7 linked regions of the Homo sapiens genome follow. The protein of the gene in region 1 interacts with the protein of each later gene in a biochemical or structural test. Each region holds a gene or a part of one and is shown in the gene's direction. Other genes may lie near its edges.

Region 1 (3,500 bases):
AGAAATCGCTTTCTCAGATCTTTTGCTATTTGCATGGGATAGAGCTAACAGTGTGATAGGTTTCTGGGACCTCAACTTTACCTAAAGATAAAAATTGTCTTTGTCTTAAATCTTTCTCAACACAGCTTGTCCATTCCCATTGATGGATTGGAATTCTTTTTAGATGACTGAGGTAGGCTGCAGCAGTTTGGGAAACTTTAATTACGTGCCATAATTGGTAAAATCTGTTTGGCAAATGGGAGTAGTGTACAAATTGGTGCTACATTTGTATAAAAATTAGGGAATTTGTTAATAGGTATTTCCAAGCTCTCCAGAAATTCCGATTCGGTACTTCTGGAGTACAGCTCAGGGAATTTTTTTTTTTTTTTTTTTTTGGAGACAGTCTTGCTCTGTTGCCCAGGCTGGAGTGCAATGGCATGATCTCGGCTCACTGCAGCCTCCGCCTCCCAAGTAGCTGGGATTACAGGCACCCACCACCATGCCCAGCTAATTTTTGTACTTGAAGTAGAGACGGGGTTTCACCATGTTGGCCAGGCTGGTCTTGAACTCCTGACCTCAGGTGATCTGCCTGCCTTGGCTTCCCAAAGTGCTGGGATTACAGGAGTGAGCCACCTCGCCTGGCTGTTGTTGTTTTTAAATTAAGTTCTTTAGTGATCTGTCTTACATGGGTAAGGCACAAAGAGGAGTGAGTTAAATATCTGTGCAGTCATCATTTTGTCCTTGGTATTTGAGTGGAAACTAGTGGGGAATTCCTACATATGTACTTGTGCAGGACATGGTTATGCACATCATACTTGCTATTTCCTGGTTCTAGATATCAGCATTAGGTAAAGTAGTGCCCTGTAAGGCAGTAACTTCTGTATCTGGTTGTGTACCTCCTTCTGTCACCAATCTTGCATACCCATGATAAGGAGCCGGGTTATTAAATCCAACTTGGTTTCAAATCGTTTTGGAGCATGTAGAGCTGTTTCTATTCATGTTGGTTCTGCTTGTGTAATAACAACATTTTAATTCCTTCTCCCTCAGCTAAGTGACATAAATGGAAGTATATTCTATCACTGGAAATCTCGATACTGATAGTGCCCATTCAGTTTCTCATCTTCCTTAATTTACACACTAGTAAATGGGATAAGATGTAATTGGAATTGTAATTGGCTTATTTTTTGGCACATCACTCTTAACACCAACCCTTTAAAAAAAAATTAGACAATAATGGCTGGGCGCAGTGGCTCATGCCTGTCATCCCAGCACTTTGAGAGGCCGAGGTGGGTGGATCACCTGAGGTCAGGAGTTCGAGACCAGCCTGGCCAACATGGCGAAACCCTGTCTCTACTAAAAATACAAAAATTAGCTGGCTGTGGCGGTGGATACCTGTAGTCTCAGCTACTCTGGAGGCTTAGGCAGGAGAATTGCTTGAACCTGGGAGGCGGAGATTGTGGTGAGCCAAGATTGCGCATTGCACTCCAGCCTGGGTGACAGAGTGACACTCCATTTCTTAAAAAAAAAAAAAAAAAAAAAATTAGATAATTTGTATAGGCATGGTTAAGCCCTCGGGCATGAGAAAAAAGCTAACAGTACCTTGGCCTTTTTCCCTTTCATAGCACAACGATAACTAATACTAAGTTTCACTGTTGGTGATCTTTTTTGAAATCTGGATATTGGGGCACAATTGGGAGCTAGTTTCTCTTTTCTGATAATTGAATATTACTATTAAGGTTACCTCTAGTTTAAACAGAAAACTTTTAGTACTCAGGAGGTGGACATCCGTAGTTTCTAAATCACCTCAAGTAATATGGAGTCTTCAGAAAGCAATCTAAAGGAAAAAGGTAAAGGTAGAATGGGATTCAGTGCACTCCACATATGTACTAGGAGACTATGTAGTGTGGTGTGAAGGCACCCTGGACTTGGGTTAATAATACCCATTCAGCCCCTGATATTTTGGACAATTCACCTTGTTTTTCCCCCTCATTCCCTCGTGTCTTTGACATACCGTTTTTGTCCATTCTAGCTCTGCTAGTCCTCGAGAGCAAAGCCTTTCATTTAACATCAATCAGAACTGTTTGTAGTTGGGTAGAGCTGATGGGGGTGGGGGCCAGGGATGATGATATACCGTATAAGAAGGAAAGGGGGAGTTCATTATTGGTGCTAGCTGCAAAGCAGGATACTAAGTGATCCGACCCAGTCAGCAGAGCTGGCCTGAATATCTGGCAGCTATTCTTTGTCCCGTGTTCATGCCAGAACAGTTAACTGTTTGCCTTTGAGTGGACTACTGATTCTTAGTGAGTTCATTGACTGAATTAGCTGATCACGGTAATAATTAGCTCTAGGTCAATTGTGGCTTCATCTTTTATCATACCTGTGCCTTTACTCTTTACATAAATGGTGGCGTGGTTACCATGTCAAGCGAGACATGTTTAATGACAAGTGGATCTTGTTTTGACATCTGGCTAGATTTTGGTATCTGTCAGTGATAGAACAGTTCTTTGATTCTTGGGCAAACAGAACAAATCCTTTCAGATTGGAAGTTATATAAAGATTAGTTCATAGGTGTTATTAACATCAGCAACGTTGTTTTTGTATTTAGTGATGTTGTTACTTGACCAAGGCCTTTCTATGTAAGTCACCCCGAATGCTGAGTTGTTAGTGATTAGAAGGAAAAAGTTTTGTTTCAGCCCACGTCTCATGAGTAAGATCTCCTTGGATCAGATTAGACAGTGATCTACTGTGAATAAGACCCACCTGAATGCCCCAGAACTAGCTTCATTCTAGTGTCCATGTCTGTCTACAAAACGAGGGTGTGAACATCCTTTCCTTATAACAGCAACAATGAGCCTGGAAGATGAGTTTTGTCCCCATCTCTCTCCTTTGCCATTTACTGCTACCTCCTCTTGTAACTTCTGGTTTCCCACCTCGTGTTGAAGGTTGAAGTGAGGTGGGATGACTGGTTTTGTTTCTAGGTTCTAGGGCAGTGTTGATTATGCTGATGTTGCTACTGAGGCTGGTTTTTTCTGACAGCCTTTCCTACTTCTCCGTATTATAGATAAGAATTCTGAGGCCAGGCACAGTGGCTCACGCCTGTCATCCCAGTACTTTGGTAGGCCGAGGTGGGTGGATCACCTGAGGTCAGGAGTTTGAGACTGTCCTGGCCAACATGGTGAAACCCCATCTCTACTAAAAATACAAAAACTAGCCGGGCATGGTGGCAGGCACCTGTAATCCCAGCTACTTGCTGGGGGGAGCTAAGGCAGGAGAATCGCTTGAACCCAGAAGGCGGAGGTTGCAGTGAGCCGAGATCGCGCCATCATGCTCCAGCCTGGGGGACACGAGCGAGACTTTGTCTCAAAAAAAAAAAGAATTCTGAGACAGCTGCCTGGGCACAGTGGCTCACACCTGTAATCCTAGCACTTTGGGAGGCCAGGAATTTGAGACCAGCCTGGGCAACATAGGGAGACCCCCATCTCTACTAAAAACCCAAAAAAGTTAGCTGGGTGTGATGGCAT
Region 2 (3,500 bases), on another chromosome or scaffold:
TTTTCCCCACCACAGATTACTGATACAGGTAATAGTTACTCAGTTTCCAACTGAGATTAGTATATTTGTCATGAAAATATAGAAGGTTGTACAAAATAGGAGTTGAAAGTCTTAATTCTGCTTTCTTCATATTGGAGCTTAATATTGGACCCTAGAAGATAGTCTCTAATGAGAATTGCTTTGCTTATTCCATGATAATATATCACACCAGGTTAAAAATTTGCGTAGAGCTGGCATTGTGCAAAGACAAGGACTTTGGGGTCAAGACGGGATTTGAATCTTTTTCTGCTCTCAATAGTGTGATGTTGGGCAAATATTTTCATCTGTAAAATAAGAATATTAATATCTACATTTCTAGGATTATTGTGAAGAGTAGAAATATTGTTTATTAATGACCTAGTTCAGAGCCTGTGTCTTTGTGTGCACGCTAATTGGTGGCTACATTTTAGTAGTTCTTATTTATATTATGTTTCTGAGTTTAAATAAAATTATTTCAAAATATATGATATAATCATAGATAAATAACAAATATGAGTAGAAACATGTAATTTTGTATAAGTTAAAGGCAATTGAAGAGGAGAGCAATCATTCATTCCTAATAAGAAAATAAACTAGCAATATTAAAGTGTGTCATGAGATACACTTATCACAAGAGGCCATGAACTAACAGGAAAAGAGATCCAGATTACAGGCTTATGCCACATGTATTACCCCAGATCACCCATGTTACGTAGTTTTAGTAACCATAATCTTATGTTAATATTGGTTCATATTTTCACAATATTTGACTTAGAGTCTCAGCATTTTTCTAATATGTGAGTGGCTGGAATTAAGAACTTTACTGCCTCTGTGAAATTGGAAGAATTTTCATATTGATTTAACGTGTAGGGAGTAGTGGCACTTGATGGGGATTATTATGGGACTTAGTAATAGATGGAATATTAGATTGATTTCAGCCACTTTACTCACATGGGTAAATAGTGAATTTTAAATTTGCCTATGAATAGTATTTCATTGATTCTAAGACTAATATTTTCATTTTATAATATCTCTGAAATTACGATGTATCTCAGGTAAAATTGGAAAATACAATTTAGTCGTTCATCAAATAAAGGTGCAATGTTGTCTTAGATTTTTTGAAATGTAATAATGTATATATTACCATCTACCAAAGATGGTGTATACTACCAACTCTGTGAAACAGATGTGAGTTTGAACAGAAGCAATAAAAATCAACATGAGATTAGAAAACTATCACTAGCTGAGGGGTATAGATCCCTGAGAACTTTATAGCACTGTTCTTTGATTTCTTGGTAACCTACAAGATTTTTCATCGTAAATTTTCTTTTGATTTCAGAGAATGGTTCTTTCTTTTGTCACATGAAGTGTTGAACCCAATGTATTGCCTGTTTGAATATGCAGGGAAGGATAACTACTGCTTGCAGATAAACCCCGCTTCTTACATCAATCCAGATCACCTGAAATATTTTCGTTTTATTGGCAGATTTATTGCCATGGTAAGTGCAGGTCAAGAATTATGTTTACTTTGCTTATTCAGCAATACTAAATTTTCTCTTAGGTGCCATAACAGATCATATGAGAGAAAGGGAAGTGGTTTTTTGTTTTGTTTTGTTTTTTATTTTTGAGACAGAGTCTTGCTCTGTCACCCAGGCTGGAGTACAGTGACACGATCTTGGCTCACTGCAACCTCTGCTTCCTGGACTCAGTCAGTTCTCCCGCCTCAGCCTCCCAAGTAGCTAGGATTACAGGTGTGCGCCACCATGCCTGGCTAATTTTTGTATTTTTAGTAGAGAAGGGGTTTTGCTATGTTGGCCAGGCTGGTCTTGAACTCCTGACCTCAGGTAATCCACCTGCCTCAGCCTTCCAAAGTGCTGGGATTACAGGTATAAGTCACCGTGCCCAGCCAGGGAAGTGTTTTTTTGAGACAAAGTTTCACTTTTGTTGCCCAGGCTAGAGTGCAATGGCGTGATCTCGGCCCACCACAACCTCTGCCTCCCAGGTTCGAGCAATTCTCCTGCCTCAGCCTCCCGAGTAGCTGGGATTACAAACAAGCATGTGCCACCATGTCCGGCTAATTTTTGTGTTTTTAGTAGAGATGGGGTTTCTCCATGTTGGTCAGTCTGGTCTCGAACTCCTGACCTCAGGTGATCCACCCACCTCGGCCTCCCAGATTGCTGGGATTACAGGCGTGAGCCACCATGCCTGACCCAGGGAAGTGTTTTTAAATGAAGAGTACATCTAATATATTGAAATAAAATGATTATTGTACAGTTATTTTAAGCGGTCTTGTTTCCTTTTTTCATAGGCTCTGTTCCATGGGAAATTCATAGACACGGGTTTTTCTTTACCATTCTATAAGCGTATCTTGAACAAACCAGTTGGACTCAAGGATTTAGAATCTATTGATCCAGAATTTTACAATTCTCTCATCTGGGTTAAGTAAGTTTCTTTTTCCATGTAATTTATTAAAATATAGTTATATGCATTCCGTGTAGTATTGATAACTTATCCAAACTGTAGGCACATAATTGGTTTATTGTATTTAAATGATCTATATATCAAACCTGTCTTTTTATTCAATATGATAAATTTTACAAAAATACACCCAAGATCTTCGGCAATAATATGACCTTAGAACAGAATCTTATTTCTTCTTATTTTGATGTTATAGCTTAATATTAATTATTTAAGAACATGGGCCTTTCGTTAAAAACTTATAAATTATGATTGAATTGGTGGATATAACAAATAGTGCTAATTTCATTTGTGCAGGGAAAACAATATTGAGGAATGTGATTTGGAAATGTACTTCTCCGTTGACAAAGAAATTCTAGGTGAAATTAAGAGTCATGATCTGAAACCTAATGGTGGCAATATTCTTGTAACAGAAGAAAATAAAGAGGAATACATCAGGTGAGAGTGCTCCTTTTCACATTTCACTTTTTGTTTGACTACAGCACATTGATAATTGCTTACTAATACTAATGGAGAGTATCTCCAAAAATAGTATTTGTCTCTGTACTAATCAATATCCTATGTAGGCAGTCATTTTTCATTTCTAAAAAGTTTTTTTTTAAGTGTTTTTAAAAGAGTTTTAAGGATAAAAGTCATGCAGGATCACTCTTTTAAACATCAACTCTGTAATCACTATGCTGTATAACATGTCATTAAAAAGAATCTCAAATATATATGCAGATATTTTCATGGGGAATATTGTAAGGTGTATTAATCCACTTTCCTGCTGCTGATAAAGACATATCCAAGACTGGGCAATTTATAAAAAAAAGAGGTTTAATGGACTTACAGTTCCACGAGGGTGGGGAGGCCTCACCCTCATGGTGGAAGGCAAGGAGGGGCAAGTCACATCTTACATGGATGGCAGCAGGCAAAGAGAGAGCTTGTACAGGGAAAACTCCTGTTTTTAAAACCTCATCATCGGCCAGGCATGGTGGCTCATGCCTGTAATCCTAGCACTTTGG
Region 3 (3,431 bases), on another chromosome or scaffold:
CATTCTGATAATGGCCGGTGATGAAGCAAGCACAATAGCTGAAATAATAGAGGAATGTGGAGGTAAGAGTGGATTGATGGAAGAAGAGTATTTGAGCACTGGAACTCTGAAACATAAGTTCTTTAAAGTCAACTTACTAGACAGAAAATTACTAGGATACGTTGTTTTTAAATGATCACAGTATGTTGCTTTTCTTTATTCACTATATTTGCATTCCAAGAGGATTTTCCAGAAGACAGTAGTCCATACTTTGCAAAATCAGGTTGTGAAAGTCACTGTATAGCCTTCTAGAGATTGACAACATAGCTTTTTTTTTTTTTTTTGGAGACAGAATCTTGCTCTGTCGCCCAGGCTGGAGTGCAGTGGCACAATCTCAGCTCATTGCAACCTCTGCCTCCCGAGTTCAAGCAATTCTCACACCTCAGCCTCCCAGGTAGCCGGGATTACAGGCGCACACCACCACACCCAGTGGATTTTTGTGTTTTTAATAGAGACGAGGTTTCACCATGTTGGCCAGGCTGGTCTCGAACTCCTGACCTCAAGTGATCCACCTGCCTCAGCGTCCCAAAGTGCTGGGATTACAGGCATGAGCCACTGCGCCTGGCCTGACATTGCATTTTAGGAAACACTAATACTTCTCTTGAAGTCACAGTGCATGACAGCAAATTTAAGAGCCCTTACAACACTACATAAATTTTAAAGCTTTATTTAATCCAGCATTTCTTAAACTTCTTAACAATGAAACACTTTTTTTGTGTGTTATTACCATGTAATTCTGTGGACCCCACTTTAGGAAATATTATTTCATATAGTTGGAAAAGGTTACTGACTTCTGAGTCACCTAGATATTTTGTTTCAATCTTGTAATGATTCTTAGGATTTCCACAACTACATCCTGAAGTTATTACTGTGGCAGTTACTTTGAAATTTTAATGAGAAATAATTGTGATTTGACATACTGTATTATTCTTTAATGACATGTGAAACATATGTTAAAATTCTGTTTTTAAATGTACATGTTCAATATGTACTAACATGTTTAAACCTTAAATTAGTTTATCATAATGTCATGTTTTAGATTTTACATTTCATTGACTACTTTATATGAATATTCTATTGTTTATTTATTTATTTATTTTAAGAGAAAACAAATGCAGTAGTACCGTAGAATATTCAGACTGGGAGGATTTCTTTCTTTCTATTTATTTATTTATTTATTTATTTATTTATTTATTTATTTATTTATTTTTTATTTATTTATTTTTTTTTTGAGACAGAGTTTCGCTCTTGTTGCCCAGGCTGGAGTGTAATGGCTCACCGCAACCTCCGTCTCCCGGGTTTAAGCAATTCTCCTACCTCAGCCTCCCTAGTAGCTGGGATTATAGGCATGCACCACCACGCCCGGCTAAATTTTTGTATTTTTAGTAGAGGCAGGGTTTCTCCGTGTTGGTCAGGCTGGTCTTAAACTCCCAACCTCGGGTGATCTGCCCGCCTCGGCTTCCCAAAGTGCTGGGATTACAGGCGTGAGCCACTGCACCCAGCCGGGAGGGTTTCTTGAGAAGAAATTATCCCACAGATTTTAAGGAGTCTTGTCCAAGGTGACAGAAGTAGGTTGTGATAGAAGCAAAGTTAAAATCCAGATCTTCTTACTATTAAGATAATTAAAAATTGTAGTCAGGTTCATAACACAGTAAGTTTGAGCAACTTAGAGAATTACTACTCTTCAGCTTTTTATCAATATAGTTACTTTTGTCTATAGGAGTAATAGGATACATATTAATATTTTATAATTGTATAAAGCACTTTGGCAACGATTTCCCCCATTCTTTTGGTTTATTAGTATATAAGAAAAAATTGCAACTATTTTAAAATAACCTTCAAAAAGACATTTCAAGGAAGAATATTAAGGTGTGAAATTGATAAACATGTATATGATGTGTGGAGTAAATATATTGGAAATATAAATGAAGGCATTCTATGATATCTGTTCTGGAAATATTTTCTCCCAGGTTCATTGTGGCTATAGGACATAAGACCTCTATTCATTTTTTAAAGAAAGTTTTTCAAAATTTAAATCTTTATATCTTTTATACCAATTATAAGGTTCTAAAAACTCATTTTGTGGTTATATAAAGGTAATAACATTTGGAAAACAAAGAGAAAGATACAAATTACTTTATGAGGCAGTAAGATTAATAAGATTGGCCGGGTGCAGTGGCTCACTCCTGTAATCCCAGCACTTTGGGAGGCCAAGGCGGGCGAATCACGAGGTCAGGAGTTCGAGACCAGCCTGGCCAACATGGTGAAACCCCGTCTCTACTAAAAACACAAAAAATTAGCTGGGCATAGTGGTGGGCACCTGTAATCCCAGCTACTTGGGAGGCTGAGGCAGGAGACACTTGAACCCAGGAGGTGGAGGTTGCAGTGAGCCGAGACGTGCCACTGCACTCCAGCCCTGGCTACAGAGTGAGACTCCGTCTCAAAAAAAAAAAAAAAAAAGAAAGAAAGAAAAAATGCCCAGGCGCAGTGGCTCACGCCTGTAATCCCAGCACTTTGGGAGGCCGAGGTGGGCAGATCACGAGGTCAGGAGATCAAGATCATCCTGGCTAACATAGTGAAACCCCGTCTCTGCTAAAAATAGAAAAACTTAGCCGGGTGTGGTGGCGGGCGCCTGTAGTCCCAGCTACTTGGGAGGCTTAGGCGGGAGAATGGCATGAACCCAGGAGGCGGAGCTTGCAGTGAGCCGAGATCACACCTCTGCACTCTGCACTCCAGCCTGGGTGACAGAGCGAGACTCCGTCTCAAAAAAAAAATAGATTAGTAAATTTATATTAAAGCACTGTGGGGGAGTTGGTTCTAGTACTGTCACAAACTTGCCATATAACTTGAAATAAGTCTCTTTACATATTTATGCCACAGCTTCCCTCTGTCAAATGGATTGTTTGGGTGTTTTTTTAGACTGTCTGCCTCAGGGATCCGGGTACCTCAAGGGCTTCTAAGAAGGAAAAAATTAGTGGGATTCTGGTCCTCCAACTAGAAGCAGCCCCGTGTTTTGTCTGTTTTTTAGACAAACCACTATCTTAGATGGGGGAGCAGTGTGTTCTGAGTTCCTTAGGATTTCTCCATGATTAAAATGAGTGTGGTTTTGATTAGTATCTCCTTATCAATTAACCAGTTATTTTGATTATTTTATTTTTACCAGGTTTGGAGAAAATTGAAGTTTTACAGCAACATGAAAATGAAGACATATATAAATTAGCATTTGAAATCATAGATCAGTATTTCTCTGGTGATGATGTAAGTAGATATTAAAATAGCGTGTATCTTCATGTAAATGAAAACCTATACATGATGTAAATTTACTAAGAGTTTTCCTTTTATTATTAGGATGACATAAGTTTGTACTGTATTTCTATTAGACATTCCATCAG
Region 4 (3,500 bases), on another chromosome or scaffold:
GAACTCCTGGTACCGTCTTTGGGAAAGTGGGGAAGAGGCTTCCCCTCCCGCCCCACACACACACAGAGTCTCAGACTGGTTACAGGCCTCGGGATTCGTTTATCAGTTTAAGCGAATCCTCTAAGCAGGCTCCGCCAGGTCATAGACATACCCTGTAGTCAGAAACATTTTGCTGTTTGCCTGCCCCATCTCAGGTGACTCTGTGGGCTCCACCCACCCGGGATTAGCACCAGTCGGTGTGAGCAGGGGGCACACAGCGCAGAAAGCCAAGAGCCAGGGAGTGTTTCTGCTGGACGGGATGCAGGCGGCCCCAGTGGGGCTGGGGATTAGCCCATCCTCTGAGGACTTCCAGGTCGCCAAACACGTTGTGTGTTTAATTTTAAAAAGCCACGTTCACTCTTGCACAGGCACAAGGATGCAGCGTGAAGTCAGCAGTAGCAGAATTTCTAGGGAGCACAGTAGAGAAACATTTACACTTTTCACTTCCTTCACAGTTGGACCAGAAAGTGCCCTCAGCGCTGTGATCCGCTGATTCTGGGCCTGGCATTGTAACTCCAGGCTTCCCTGCCCGCTGGACACGCTGAGCCAGTCAGAAGCTGCCTGCAGCCTTTCTCACCTCCGAGTTCACGGTTGTCAGGTCCCTTCACGACATCTCCCAGGAAAACACTCCCTGCCTCACGTTCATGTCCACTGTACACATCGCCAGAGACTCCAAAGATCTGCCAAAAGCCTTTTAAAATTTCTTTTCAAATTCTACAACACCTTTTTCATCATGTGGTATAGGAAAGACATATACAAATTACTAGCAACTCCATATTCCATTATCTCAAGATAAATGCATTTGGTCTTAGGATATTTAGTTACAAAAAAGTCATGCCTACATGTTGAAAATATTTACACAAAATGGAAATCCTAGAAAGTAACAAGCAGGAGCCACCCTCCAGCTAAGAGGTTCCCGGGTAACCTCCGTCAGTAGTTTGAATTCTCTCTCCCGACTTATTTTCCTGGGCATTCCTCAACACACATACACACCACACATACACACACACACACACCACACACACGGGACTGGATTGGCTTTAACAGAAATGGAATCGCACTTCCGTGTCCCACAAGCTGCTCTCTTCTCTGATCCATGTATTGTGGGCATGTCAGAGGCCTACCTCCCTCTCGGTGGTAATAGCTGTGCTGTACTTTTTTTCCCCCATATTTTCTATTGTAAATTATTTCATTCCTTGGCCAATGATGAGCAACCAGGTTATTTCCTGTCCTCTGCCGGCACTAAGGCTTCTGCAGGGCACAGGTGTTTCTTGTTGTTTGGAGACAGGTTTTTGCTCTGTCACCCAGGCTGGAGTGCAGTGGTGTGATCTCAGCTCACTACAACTCCCAGGCTCAAGCAGTCCTCCTGTCTCAGCCTTCTGAGTAGCTGGGAGTGCAGGCACATGCAGAGGAGACGTGTGGAGTACATGATCTGGTGTGGGATTGCTGGGCATCCGTCTGGGCCAAGTGTGGCACTGGTTTTGATTACTCTGTTTTGTTTTGGTTTTTGATAGGAGAAAGAGCCCCAGAAAAATGAGTCCAGCAATGCCTCTGAAGAGGAAGCCTGTGAGAAAAAAGACCCCGCCACACAGCAAGCCTTTGTATTTGGGCAGAACTTGAGGGACAGAGTTAAGGTATGTGAGCTGTTGAACCAGCACATTGACTTTTTATGCCTTCCCCAGGTTCAACAGCAGGCAAGTAGGTAGATTTTCCTTTTAACAGGGGAGGGGAGCGTGGGACAAAGAAGGTGTTAGCGAGGCAGCCCCATGGCTCACGGCACAGTCTGCTGCTGGTGTGCGTGTGCTGGGCCCTGGCACTTCCCCACCAGCAGCCCAGGCTTCGGAGCCCTCACCTGCAGTGACTTCTCAAGTCAGGGTCCCTGGTTCTCATGGTAGCGGGGACAGGGAAGGTGACTGAACCTGAGGCCTCAGGCTTTCATAGCAGAGAAGAAAGACAGCACGGTCCAGTGTTCTCAGCTCTGCCCAGAGGTTTCTGTTCCCGTATTTCAGGGTTTCTCTGTTTCAGCACTAGCAGCATTACGGCTGGACCATTCTTAGTTTCTGAGGAGTCGCCCTGGGCACTGCAGGGTGCTGAGCAGCATCACTGGCCTCCACCCACCCAATGCTCCTGACATCTGACAACCACAAATGTCCCCAGACGTGGCCAGTATTCCCTGTGGAGTAGAATCGCCCCCATTAAGAACTGTCACCTTATTTTTTTTTAAGTGGGGCAGGGTGGGGTGACAACACTGTCTTCTCTCCTGAAAGGGAGCAAAGCGTCTGCCACCTCTTGGCTGCCCTCCAGACATGTGGTCCTAGTTTGGAGATTGTGTGGTGGGGAAGGGATGGCAGTGGTTGGAAACAGTGGCCCTGGACCATGCACTGGGACTCTAGGAAGACCAGGGTCAGCCAGCACCACCTTTCCCAGCCACAGACATGGAATGTGCTACGGCATCTCTAGCAGCTCCACTGGCAAGAAGCTTCTTTCAAAGCTCGAGAGGCGGTATCGGTGGCTGTGTCTAGAGACTTTTGTGGTTGTCACAACTGGGAGGTACTTCTGGAGGTCAGGGATGCCACTCCGCCCCTTGCAGTGCCCAGGATAGCCACACCACAGGGAATGTTCTGGGCCCAGTGTCAACATGTCAGTAGTGTCGACGGGGAGGGCCCTGAAATAAACAAAAACCTCTCTAGCATGCAGAAAGCACCGGCTTGTGTTTTCTGCTTTCCTTTCTGTTACTCACCGTCCAACAGAAGCCCAAGTCGAGAAACGTGGAAAGTTGATGTTGCTGTTGCCATGGCTTTAGGCAAAATAATGAGTCCCTCAGGGGCTGTTCCCTCCAAGGAGGGAGGGCAAGAGGCGGGGAAGGGCTTGGCCTGTGGAGTTCAGGCCCTGTGGAATCTCTGCCTTGAGTCTGGGGAGACAGCTGCTTTGAATTTGGTGGGGTTGGCTTCTTGCAGAAGTCAGAGGCTTACGTGCACTTCGCAGTCTCAGTCAAATCCCAGCCTCTCCTTCCAGGGCAAACTTGAGCCATGGATTCTTTTTTTTTCTTTGGACACGAAGTCTTGCTGTGTCGCCCAGGCTGGAGTGCAGTGGCATGATCTCTGCTCACTGCAACCTCCACCTCCTGGGTTCAAGCGATTCTCCTGCCTCAGCCTCCCAAATATCTGGGATTACAGGCGCCCACTGCCACATCCAGCTAATTTTTTGTATTTTTAGTAGAGGTGGGGATTTCTCCATGTTGGCCAGGCTGGTCTCGAATTCCTGACCTCAAGTGATTCCCCGCCGCCTCAGCCTCCCAAAGTGCTGGTATTACAGGCACGAGCCACCGCGCCCAGCCAGAGCCATGGTTTCTTAACCCTCTGAGCCTCTGCTTCCTTGTTGGTCAAACAGGGTCCCTAACATCCCCCTCCCAGGCCTCGTGAGGATTAAAGCAGATCGTGCATTTGACAGACTCAGCATAG
Region 5 (3,500 bases), on another chromosome or scaffold:
CAGGCGTGAGCCACCACGTCCGGCCTTATTTTTATTTTTTGCAGTGATGTCATCTCCATATGTTGCCCAGGCTGGTCTCAAACTCCTGAGTTCAAGCGATACTCCCACCTCAGCCTCCCAAAGTGCTGGGATTACAGATGTGAACAATTGCCCAGTGATCACAAGGGTTTTCTTCAGGGACAAAAAGATACTTTTCCTTCTCCAACGTTACTCAAGAGTAGGAGGAATTCAGGTCCCTCCCTCTCATTCCAACCTCTAGAAGTTCCCTGTAACTTCTTTTTTTTTTTTTTGAGATGGAGTCGTACTCTGTCTCACAGGCTGGAGTGCAGTGGCGCGATCTCGGCTCACTGCAAGCTCCGCCTCCCGGGTTCACGCCATTCTCCTGCCTCAGCCTCCCGAGTAGCTGGGACTATAGGCACCCGCCACCACGCCCGGCTAATTTTTTGTGTGTTTTTAGTAGAGACAGGGTTTCACCATGTCAGCCAGGATGGTCTCGATCTCCTGACCTCGTGATCCACCCGCCTTGGCCTCCCAAAGTGCTGGGATTACAGGCGTGAGCCACCGCGCCTGGCCGTTCCCTGTAACCTCTTTGTCTGAGGTCAGCTAGCCATTGCTAGGCATCCTGATCCTGAGAATTCGTTAAATGTTTCTGGAACTTGGCGGGCCATCTAGGTCTCAGATATAAGAGAAGTGGCCTGAGGTTCTCCAGGATCTATCTGCATCCTCTATTCATGTAGGGCTGACTTGGAAGTGGGACCTGGCATGCGGTGGTTGGGATATTGCCGCACAAGGATGAGGCAGGATACAAGATGCCTCAGTTCTCAATTAGCTCAAAATTATGTCCCTTCGTGTATAGGAGCCTATCTGCCTATCACTATTTTTTTTTGAGACAGAGCCTCGCTCTGTTGCCCAGGCTGGAGTGCAGTGGTGCAATCTCAGCTCACTGCAACCTCCGCCTCCTGGGTTCAAGCAATTCTCCTGCCTCAGCCACCCGAGTAGCTGAGATTACAGGTGCCCACCACCACACCCAGCTAATTTTTGTATTCTTAGTAGAGATGGGGTTTCACCATATTGGCCAGGCTAGTCTTGAACTCCTGACCTCAAGTGACCCACTCGCCTTGGCTGCCCAAAGTGCTAGGATTACAGGTGTGAGCCACCGCACCTGGCCGAGCCCATCTCTTCTCTCTGAGCCATGTCTTGTTTTATTCCGTTGCCTTTGGAGTTGGTGGTTTGGGAGGGGAATAATTACTTAAGAGAGACACAGAATAGGCAGGGTGCGGTGGCTCATGCCTGTAATCCCAGCACTTTGGGAGGGCGAGGTGGGCGGATCACGAGGTTAGGAGTTGGAGACCAGCTTGGCCAATATAGTGAAACTCTGTTTCTATTAAAAATACAAAAATTAGCTGAGCATGGTGGCAGGTGCCTGTAATCCCAGCTACTTGGGAGGCTGAGGCAGGAGAATCGCTTGAACCAGGGAGGCGGACGTTGCAGTGAGCCAAGATTGTGCCACTGCACTGCAGCCTGGTGACAGAGTGAGACCCTGTCTCAAAAAACAAGGGAGACCAGAATTTTGTTTTTTTTATTATTATTATACTTTAAGTTCTAGGGTACATGTGTACAACTTGCAGTTTTGTTACATATGTATACATAACGCCATGTTGATGTGCTGCACCCATTAACTCGTCATTTACATTAGGTGTATCTCCTAATGCTATCCCTCCCCGCTACCCCCGCCCCAGGACAGGCCCCGGTGTGTGATGTTTCCACCCTGGAGACACAGAATTTTCAAATTTCAGAACAAGTCTGGGCGCAGTGGCTCACGCCTGTAATCCCAGCACTTTGGGAGGCTGAGGTGGGTGGATTACTTGAGGTCAGGAGTTCAAAACCAGCCTTACCAACATGGAAAAACCCTGTCTCTACTAAAAATATGAAAATTAGCTGAGCGTGGTGGTGCATGCCTGTAATCCCAGCTACTCAGGAGGCTGAGGCAGGAGACTCGCTTGAACCTGGGAGGCGGAGCTTGCAGTGAGCTGAGACTGTGCCATTGCGCTCCAGCCTGGGCAACAACAGCGAAACTCCATCTTGAAAAAAAAAAATTCATAACTAGAAGCCACCTTATATCAAAAATTCTAGGATTCAGCACCAGCTCTGAAGCTGGAGCATTGCTTGAGGCCAGGAGTTCAAAACTAGCCTTGTCAACATAGCAATACCCATTTCTACAAAAGAAAAATAAAAAAATAGCCAGTGTGGTTGTGGTGTTGTATACCTGTAGTTCCAGCTGCTCAAGAGGCTGCAGGAGGTCAAGGAACCGTGAGCTATGATCATGCCACTGCACTGTAGCCTGGGGACACTCTAGCAAGACCCTGTCTCCAAAAAAAAGGCTAGGTTTCCCTTAACAAAACACTATTATCTTTTTTTCTTTTTTTTTTTTTTTCACCCAGGCTGGAGTGAAGTGTCACTCTTGCCCAGGCTCAAGTGCAGTGTCGCAGTCTCGGCTCACTGCAACCCCCGCCCTCCGGGTTCAAGCAATTCTCCTGTGTCAACCTTCCGAGTGGCTGGGATTATACCCGCCTGCCGGTATAATCCGGCTAATTTTAATATTTCTAGTAGAGATGGGGTTTTGCCATGTTGGCCAGGCTGGTCTCAAACTCCTGACCTCAGGCGATCCGCCCACCTCAGCTTCCCAAAGTGCTGGGATTATAAGCTTGAGCCACCATGCCTGGCCTTTTTTTCTTTATTTTATTTCTTTATTTTTTTATTTTTTGAGACAGAGTTTCGCTCTTATTGCCCAGGCTGGAGTGCAATGGCGTGATCTCGGCTCACTGCAACCTCTGCCTCCTGGGTTCTAGCGATTCTCTTGCCTCAGCCTCCCTAGTAGCTGGGATTACAGGCATGTGCCACCACGCCTGGCTAATTTTGTATTTTTAGTAGAGATGGGGTTTCTCCATGTTGGTCAGGCTGGTCTCGAACTCCCGACCTCACTCAGGTGATCCACCCACCTTGGCCTCCCAAAGTGCTGGGATTACAGGCATGAGCCACCGCTCCCGGCCCTTTTTTTCTTTCTTTTTAAAGTTTTTCTTAGGGTACATCAGCAGCCTTTTTATTTTATTTTATTTTATTTTAATGAGATAAGGTCTCACTCTTTTACCAACAGTGAGACCCTGTCTTTAAAATAAATTAAATAAATAGAAACCAGCCAGGTATGGTGGTGGGTGCCTGTAGTCCCAGCTACTTGGGAGGTGAGGCAAGAGGATCACTTCAGCCCAGAAGTTCAAGTCTGCAGTGAGCTGTGATTGTGGCACTGCTAAAGTGCAGTTGGTGCCATCTCAGGTCACTGCAGCCTTGACCTCCTGGGCTCAAGCAGTCCTCCCACCTCAGCCTCCTGAGTAGCTGGGACTACAGGTGCGCACCATCACGCTTGGCTAATTATTATTATTATTTCTGAGACGGAGTCTCACTCTGTCTCCCAGGCTGGAGTGCAGTGGCACGATCTCGGCTCA
Region 6 (3,991 bases), on another chromosome or scaffold:
ACTGCAGGACAGGATTGGAGCTGAGTGCCAGGTAAGGGGTGAAGCCCCGTCTGTGGAGAGGGGGCATGCAGAGCAGGGGGCTCTCCAAAGCCCAGAAGTCCTGATCCACTTTTAACCCCCAGAACCAGAAGACTGTCCTTCAGCTGTTTCACATCCCTTATTCAAGGCCACCTAGGGCCCAGAAGAGGAGGGATTGGGGTGAGCCCAGCCCCCTCCCCGCAGAGCTGGTCCAACTAGCTTTGCCTGACTCTCACATTGGCCTTATCAGCCCAGGAGGCCTGGGTGGCTTCCTGGGAGGCCCTCTGGGGGCTCTCTGACACCAAGAGCCCAGTTTTCCCAAGGGACTCTCCAAAGGGGTGGTGGGCAACAGGATCTAGGGACCCTCCCAGGGTCTGTGGTGGGAGGGGTCTCTGGGCAACCTATAAAGGGGGTTTTCTGGGTCCCAAGAGTTAGGGGGTGGGTCTGCATAGGGACCTTGCCCAGACAGCCCCTTGGGAGGCCACCTGAAGAAGGGACCCTGGGGATCCTCCCCCTCGGCTGCATGGATCGCTGGGGTTTTGGGATATGAGTGGCTCAAAAGTGAAATCCGTGCACCTGCTTGCTTCCCCCTCCCACACCCCCAACACTCCACCAAAGGCACTCTTGGGGTTAGAAACCTCCCAGCGAGAGGGAAGGGGACCCTCCTCCCGACAAGGTCCAGGTATTGCTCTCTGAAGACCTTCTAATCGTGTCCGTGCACCCATTTCGCAGAAGGGAATGCGAACGCTGGGAGCTGCGGCTGGAAGCCTGGACGCCGCGTCTCCCTAGCGCAGCAGCCCGGCTGGGCGTCGGACCTTACACGATCCCTTCCCCGGGATGACGCCGGATTCTTTCCAGCATCACCCCGACCCCAGCGAGGCGCCCACAACAGGGCGTGGGGCCCGGCCGCCCGCGGTAATGACAGGGCCCGCGGCCCGTGGGTGGCGGCGGCGGAGGAAGCTGGAGGAATCTGGCTATTTCTGGTCGGGGCGCGCCCGCTGGCCCGGGCCAGGGTTGGCCAGTCCTCCGGGCCCCCAGCTCTGCCCTCCCTCTCGCGTCCCCAGAAGGGGGCGGGGAGAGACGAGGGTTGGCGGGCTCAGGGGGCGGGGGCGCAGGGCAGCGGGGGCGGGGCGGTGTCCCGGGACCACCCCCGGCCTCCTCCCACCGCGGTCCATTCAGGTCCCTGCACCGCACTCCGCTCGGACCCCAGGCCGCCGGTGCTGTCGCTACTCAAGTGAGTCCCGCGGTGCCCCTCCCGCCGCGCCGCCCGTCGGGCATGGACTCGGGCCGGGACTTCCTGACCCTGCACGGTGAGTGCCTGGCCCGCGCGAGCGGGAGACCCTGCAGGGGTGGACCCCTGGAAAGCTGTTCCGGGCCCTGGACAGGGAGCCCCCAGCTCCTTCGGCCGCCTCCACACCACCCCGGGCCCGCCTCTCTGCCCCTTCTCCGGACTGGGAAAATCTCAGCCCGCGGCTCCCTGGGTGGGACTGCCGGGCACGACCCTGGGCGTTTCCAGGCTTGTCCGAGATCTAGCCCGGGGGGTGGGTGGGCGGGCGGTACGGGTCTAAAGACTTCCCTCCGCCTCGCGGACCCCCTTGTCCTGGTCATGAAAGTCTGGGCTCCACGATCCCGCTCGCACGGAGGGGCGGCGAAGGAAGGAAACAGCATCCAAGAACGACCAAAATTCTCCTTGCCCCATCCGGGCCGCCCCAGAGGCTCCCCAAAGCCTGGGCGTGCCTGGACCGCGTCAGGCCGCGCGGGTGTGGCGGAGCAGGGGCTAAGCGGGTGGGGAGAGGAGGTGTGCAAGGTTAACCGTGGTCGGGCCGTGCAGCCTTAACTGCCCAGCGCAGAATAGTCAGCGATGCTCAGGCTGAAAGAAGCAGCACGATCCCCTCATCTGCGACCCTCCTCGGGGGACAGGGCCAGGTCTCAGCCGGAGCTGCCTGCTCCATCCTTTGTCCAGCGGAGCTTTGTTTCCTCCAATATGAGCCAGCTCTTTGCCCTTTCGCTGTCCCTCCAGCAGCGAGGGGAGCCTGGGCTCCCGAAGGCAGATCTGGAGGCCTTCTGGGAGGCGGGAGGTTGGGGAGGGTAACTTTGGGCGCCTCTTTGCTCCAGGACAGGCACTCACTCACTCTTGGTGGGGGCTTGCCCTCCTGCCCTCCCAGGTCACTTGCCATCTCAGCAAACCCTGCTCCTTTCATACCAATCACTGCTTTACTGTATATCCCTCTCTTTTTTAGTACCCTTGGGGTTGGAGGCTTTAGTGGCCACCACCCATCCATCTAAACTGTTCATGGACATAATAGATGGGAAAGAGAAGGGCAGAGTCCTCTAGCCTTCCACTAGAGTCCCCCTGGAATTTAGAGGGACTTAGAGATGTTCCCATCAGCCAGCCTCCAGTCTATCTCGTGTTCTGCAGTTGGCACAGACCTGGTCCTCCTGGCCCAGAGAGACCTTGCTCTGTGCCCAGAGCTGTTGCTTTTACACCAATAGCCTAGGCTCCTTAAAGCCACCTTGTCTAGATGAGTCATGGAGTCCCTGCCCCTTCCAGTGCTCCCTCTTCTTTCTTCAGGCCAGAGGTGTCTTTCGTGCGCCTGCCAGACTAGCAAGAAGGGAGGCTGGGCAGCTGAGAGGACACAGTGGACATCTCTGCTTTCTCTCTGACACAGCGTCATTCCTTGGCTCCTGTTGGAACAGGCTTCATCCTCAGTGTCTGTGCCTTTGTCCAGTTTCTCTCCTGAGGCAGCCTTGATATCTTTTCCATGGAGGAAGACACATGGAGGCTCAGTCAGGACCTCCCAGTCCTGTGGCATAGGCTTGGCTGCCCTGGCCCACCCCATTTGAGACCAGCCTCCCAAATGCCTAACTCAGTCCAGCCTTTCCTGAAGGGTTGACATGAACACTGTGACCCCAAGCTGTTTTCCCTGAAGGCCCTGCCACTTCTAGCTCATCACCCAAAATTACCTCAACTGCCTTCTGTCCACACTGCAAACCAGATGGGGAAATAAGAACCTGTCAAGGAGAATTGTTGGTGGGAGGGGGTGATCACTGTGCCCTGTGCTGTTCCAGGTTGTCTACACTTGCATTGGAGAGTCTGCATCCGTTTCACAGTGTGGGTGCCCCAGCACTGGATGTGCTGCAGGACCACACTCTCTGGCCTAGGGCTCCACACTCTCTGGAAGGAGCCCAGAGGGACTCCTTCTGTTGGCCTGGGGAGCTATGCGGCTCACCTAGATGTGACATGTCCCTTCTGTCCTCACCCCAGATGCATGCAGAAGTAATGTAGTTTACTGGCATAGATTCTGAAAGCAAAGTACCTGAGTTCAAGTCTTGGCTTTCTCATCTCAGATGAATCCCTTGACTTCCCTGTGTGTCAGTTTCCTCATCTGTAAAATGGGGGATAATACCATCTACCTCATAGGGTTGCTACGAAGATTGAATGAGATAATATCTACACAGCAGTTAGAACAGTGCCTGGTACCCAGTGAGTACTATGTTCCTGCAGGAGGCCCCCTCCCCAAATTTCTATGCCCTATGAGTTGCCATCTGTAGTTCTTTGGGAGATGATGGGGGCATCATAAGGTAGTTCCTAGTCATGGAAAATAGGGCCAGAACTAGATTCAAGAGCGAGCCAGCCAGCTCTTTCTAGTGCCTCTGAAGCCCTCAGACTGATGCGACAGCATCCATCCTCCTTCCTTCACCTTACTTCTTCCACTCTTTATTCTGGCTATGCCTGGACTGGCTTCTCTAGCAGGTCCCCCGATGTGCCCCAAAGGACATTACCTCCCAGGGCCCTCCCCTCACTGAACACCCCCCACATACACACTAACTTTTCCTACACCCAATCCCTTTTGCCCCCACCCCTGCAAGAGGTGCCGTTTGTAAAAACAGAAAATAGAGGGGCCTCATCTTGGCCCCAGTAGACCTGGGCTCCAGTCCTAGCTTTGGTTCTACTTACTGTGGGTCTGAGAAT
Region 7 (3,500 bases), on another chromosome or scaffold:
GACTTCTGTTTTTTATCATGAGGAGCAATGTTTATTGTTTGATCATATAGAACTTTTGATTATAAAATGATAGCTAATCAGGTATAATGGTCAGTCCAATTGCAGAGTTCCCTTTTTTCCTGCATAATTTTAGATGTTGATCACTAAGTTCACTAAGATTCTAAGGAGATATTTAAGTAATTTCTGGTCTCTAACACAAGTACACGATATTTTTTCTTATAAGAGTTGGAAAAGTTGCAATAAGTTCTTTCATTTTGTAAAAAATTCTAAAACCTGTATACTTCAGGACAATGCAAATGATGCCAGCAATTACTTTTACTTATGATTTTCTATTGTAAAATATACATAACATAAATGGACCATTGTAAAGGTGTGCAGTTCTGTGGCATTAAGTATACATTGTTATTCAGCCATCATCCCCATCCTTCTCCAGAACTTTTGTTCCCTCCCAAATTGAAACACTGTTCCCATTAAACATAACTCCCCATTCTCCACCACTTCCAGCCCCTGGCAACCACCATTCCTTTTTTTGTCTCTCTGAATTTGTCTATTCTAGGTACCTTTTATAAATGGACTTGGACATTATTTGTCTTTTTATGACTGGCTTACTTCACTTAGTATGATGTCTTCAGGGTTCATTCATGTTGTAGCCTGTGTCGGGATTTCGTTGTGTGTTTCGTTGTGTGTTTAAGGCAGAATAATATATGTACATTCCACATTTGTTTATCCATTCACTCACTGATGGACATTTGGGTTGTTTCAACCTTTTGGCTCTTGTGATTAATGCCGCTATGAACATCGATGTGCAAATCTCTGTTCAAATTCTTGCTTTCAGGTGTTTTTTTTTGGGTCTGTACCTTGAAGTAGAATTGCTGGATCATATAGTAATTGTCTATTTAATTTTTGAGGAAGCACCACACTGTTTTCCACAGTGGCTGTACCATCTAAGCTTCCTATCAGCAGTGCCCAAGGGTTCCAATTTCTTGCAATTCATTTCTTAGAATCGGTTCTACTTTAATAGCATTTTGAAGTGTTACCTATTTGTCTCAGGAAGTATGTTTAAATTTGGCATAAGTTGTTGTACAGTCTGTGTGTCAGGGTTGCCTCATCTGAAAAACTGGACAGCTACTGGACCTAAGTGGTAGGGATTTGTTGTGAATTGGTGGCTCATCATTTAGGTGCTCTGGATCTTAGCTGCAGTGGGTTCTACTGAATGATACTAACACACCGACAGCCCAGAACCAAAACTAGGACTTTGATCATAATCTACACTTAACTATTTGGTCCTTCTTGTCTTATTTTTATAGCATGCAAATATTCCATAATAAAATTCTCTTAAAGTGCTATGGTTATCATATTTAAATACTAGCAAGGAAATGTAACTAAGATAACAGGTTTAGATTAGGTAGTGAAGAAGTATGAAAAACAATTTAGTGTTTTTTTTGTTTTGTTTTGTGTTGTTTTGATACTGACTTCTGGCTGAAATTACTATATTACTATAGATTTTTGGGTTTCTTTTCTGGGTTATTTGAAGCAAAAAAAGAAACTCATTTAGTTTTATGCAAACAATATAAATTATAAACATTTTAAAAGGAAAATAACAAATCTTGAGAACACTACTTTTCACTTTTTATCTAACACATGTGGATTAAGAAGGAAAAATATTGCTGATTTGTAATATATGCATATGGTTTATAAGGATGCAGTAAGTGGTAGGCAGTACAGTAAGATGCTTGTCAAAACGTTCTCCTCTTCATAAGAAAAGGATATAAAATGCAATTCTTTGGTTACCATTTAAAAATATAACCATACAAGACCATTTCTTGTCATTTACAATCTGAAATATTTTTTTTTCATGGGTACAGCATGTTAGAAAGTTCCTGGTATTCTGATTAGTGGTGCAAAGTGAGGTACAGAGGTGAACCCCTTTGATAATGATGCTGTTCACCATGCTCTTTATTTTCCTTTTATTTCCTTAAGAGCCACAGACAGGCCAGACTTTGGTCTTAAAATATTATTAGCAAGGTCCTTCCATGGGGTTCCCTCTTATCAGCCACTCAGCTTGGTTCATGTCAAAAAAGCCTGTGAAAGTCTCCCTCCACAGCAGCTGGAGCTGGCGAGTGTGCACACATAGAAGGCCTGAAGGGGCAGCAGGCTGTGAGAGGCACAGCGTGGACCTCACGGCATCACTGAGACATGACTCAGCGAGTCACTGAGTTTCTGGTCTTCCCAAGTCACTTTACCTTTCTGAACTTTATATTCATCTGTAAAATAAGTGTAATAACACCTACCACATTGGGGAAATGGAGAATCAAGTAATTTTTTTTTGTTAACACATTTATATAAAATTGGACAGTGTTTAACATATAAAATACATAACAGTGGGCCAGGTGTGATGGCTTATGCACTTTGGGAGGCTGAAGCTTGAGCCCAGGAGTTTGATACCAGCCTGGGCAACGTCATGAGACCTCATCTCTACTAAAAATAAAAAACTTGGCTGGGCGCAGTGGCTCACGCCTGTAATCCCAGCACTTTGGGAGGCGGAGACGGGCGGATCACGAGGTCAGGAGATCGAGACCATCCTGGCTAACACAGTGAAACCCCGTCTCTACTAAAGATACAAATATTAGCTGGGCGTGGTGGCGGGTGCCTGTAGTCCCAGCTACTCGGGAGGCTGAGGCAGGAGAATGGCGTGAACAGAGGAGGTGGAGCTTGCAGTGAGCCGAGATTGTGCCACTGTACTCCAGCCTGGGTGACGGAGCGAGACTCTGTCTCAAAAAAAAAAAAAAAAACAAAAACAAAAACTTAGCTGGGCATGGTGGTGCACGCTTGTAGTCCCAGCTATCAGAGTCTGTGGTGGGAGGATCAGTTGAGCCCAGGGGTCAAGGCTGCAGTGAGCTATGATCACACCACAGCACTCCAGCCTGAGTGACAGCGAGACCCTGTCTCAAAAAAAAATAAAACACATGACAGCGAATATTAGTTCTCGTCCCCTTTTTCTTTTCTTGCTCTTAAATAATTTACTTTTGAATTGAAATACAATATACATTAGTGAAGTCACGCTATAAGGGGAATCGGTGTCAAGCTGCATTCAGTGGCACACCCATAGTCCTAGCTACTTGGAAGGCCAAGGCAGGAAGATCGCTTGAGCCCAGGAGTTTGAGGCTGTAGTGCGCAATGATTGAGCCTGTGAATGCCCACTGCACTTCAGCCTGGGCAACATAGCAGGACCCTGTCTCTGAAAAAAAGAGACGAATCAATGTAAAGTAGTGTTACCATCACGTGCTGAGGATCTGAGGGAACAGACTTACTAGCTGGGCTGGATAGGTACTTGACTGAGGAGCTGTGTGATTATCCGCAGTGTGAAGATGACAGATGAGGAGATGATGTGGAAGGAGTTATTGCCTGCTTTATCTGATTATATGTTTAGAAGTGAGACCTCTTTGAAAATATTTTATACATGCATATTTTTGCTTGGACTGTTACAGTTCTGATGGCTG

Evidence for each region.
Region 2: the proteins of KPNB1 (region 1) and ITCH form a complex in vitro, tested with the Homo sapiens proteins (one study listed by BioGRID).
Region 3: the proteins of KPNB1 (region 1) and KPNA3 form a complex in vitro, tested with the Homo sapiens proteins (2 studies listed by BioGRID and IntAct, with this or other methods).
Region 4: the proteins of KPNB1 (region 1) and RANBP3 interact in a test that uses a peptide from one of them, tested with the Homo sapiens proteins (one study listed by BioGRID).
Region 5: the proteins of KPNB1 (region 1) and NUTF2 form a complex in vitro, tested with the Homo sapiens proteins (one study listed by BioGRID).
Region 6: the proteins of KPNB1 (region 1) and PLCD1 form a complex in vitro, tested with the Homo sapiens proteins (one study listed by IntAct).
Region 7: the proteins of KPNB1 (region 1) and TAF3 form a complex in vitro, tested with the Homo sapiens proteins (one study listed by BioGRID).

The regions. Positions count from the first base shown.
Region 1 is NC_000017.11:47,652,919-47,656,418, forward strand, and holds part of KPNB1 (importin subunit beta-1), read left to right. Parts: intron 1-3,500.
Region 2 is NC_000020.11:34,478,273-34,481,772, forward strand, and holds part of ITCH (E3 ubiquitin-protein ligase Itchy homolog), read left to right. Parts: intron 1-1,357; coding exon 1,358-1,517; intron 1,518-2,326; coding exon 2,327-2,460; intron 2,461-2,793; coding exon 2,794-2,934; intron 2,935-3,500. UniProt on the Homo sapiens protein: Acts as an Acts as an E3 ubiquitin-protein ligase which accepts ubiquitin from an E2 ubiquitin-conjugating enzyme in the form of a thioester and then directly transfers the ubiquitin to targeted substrates.
Region 3 is NC_000013.11:49,702,252-49,705,682, reverse strand, and holds part of KPNA3 (importin subunit alpha-4), read left to right. Parts: coding exon 1-62; intron 63-3,202; coding exon 3,203-3,297; intron 3,298-3,431. UniProt on the Homo sapiens protein: Functions in nuclear protein import as an adapter protein for nuclear receptor KPNB1. Binds specifically and directly to substrates containing either a simple or bipartite NLS motif.
Region 4 is NC_000019.10:5,926,141-5,929,640, reverse strand, and holds part of RANBP3 (ran-binding protein 3), read left to right. Parts: intron 1-1,553; coding exon 1,554-1,673; intron 1,674-3,500. UniProt on the Homo sapiens protein: Acts as a cofactor for XPO1/CRM1-mediated nuclear export, perhaps as export complex scaffolding protein. Bound to XPO1/CRM1, stabilizes the XPO1/CRM1-cargo interaction. In the absence of Ran-bound GTP prevents binding of XPO1/CRM1 to the nuclear pore complex.
Region 5 is NC_000016.10:67,849,933-67,853,432, forward strand, and holds part of NUTF2 (nuclear transport factor 2), read left to right. Parts: intron 1-3,500. UniProt on the Homo sapiens protein: Mediates the import of GDP-bound RAN from the cytoplasm into the nucleus which is essential for the function of RAN in cargo receptor-mediated nucleocytoplasmic transport.
Region 6 is NC_000003.12:38,026,843-38,030,833, reverse strand, and holds the start of PLCD1 (1-phosphatidylinositol 4,5-bisphosphate phosphodiesterase delta-1), read left to right. Parts: upstream 1-1,191; 5' UTR 1,192-1,294; coding exon 1,295-1,328; intron 1,329-3,991. UniProt on the Homo sapiens protein: The production of the second messenger molecules diacylglycerol (DAG) and inositol 1,4,5-trisphosphate (IP3) is mediated by activated phosphatidylinositol-specific phospholipase C enzymes. Essential for trophoblast and placental development.
Region 7 is NC_000010.11:7,825,005-7,828,504, forward strand, and holds part of TAF3 (transcription initiation factor TFIID subunit 3), read left to right. Parts: intron 1-3,500. UniProt on the Homo sapiens protein: The TFIID basal transcription factor complex plays a major role in the initiation of RNA polymerase II (Pol II)-dependent transcription.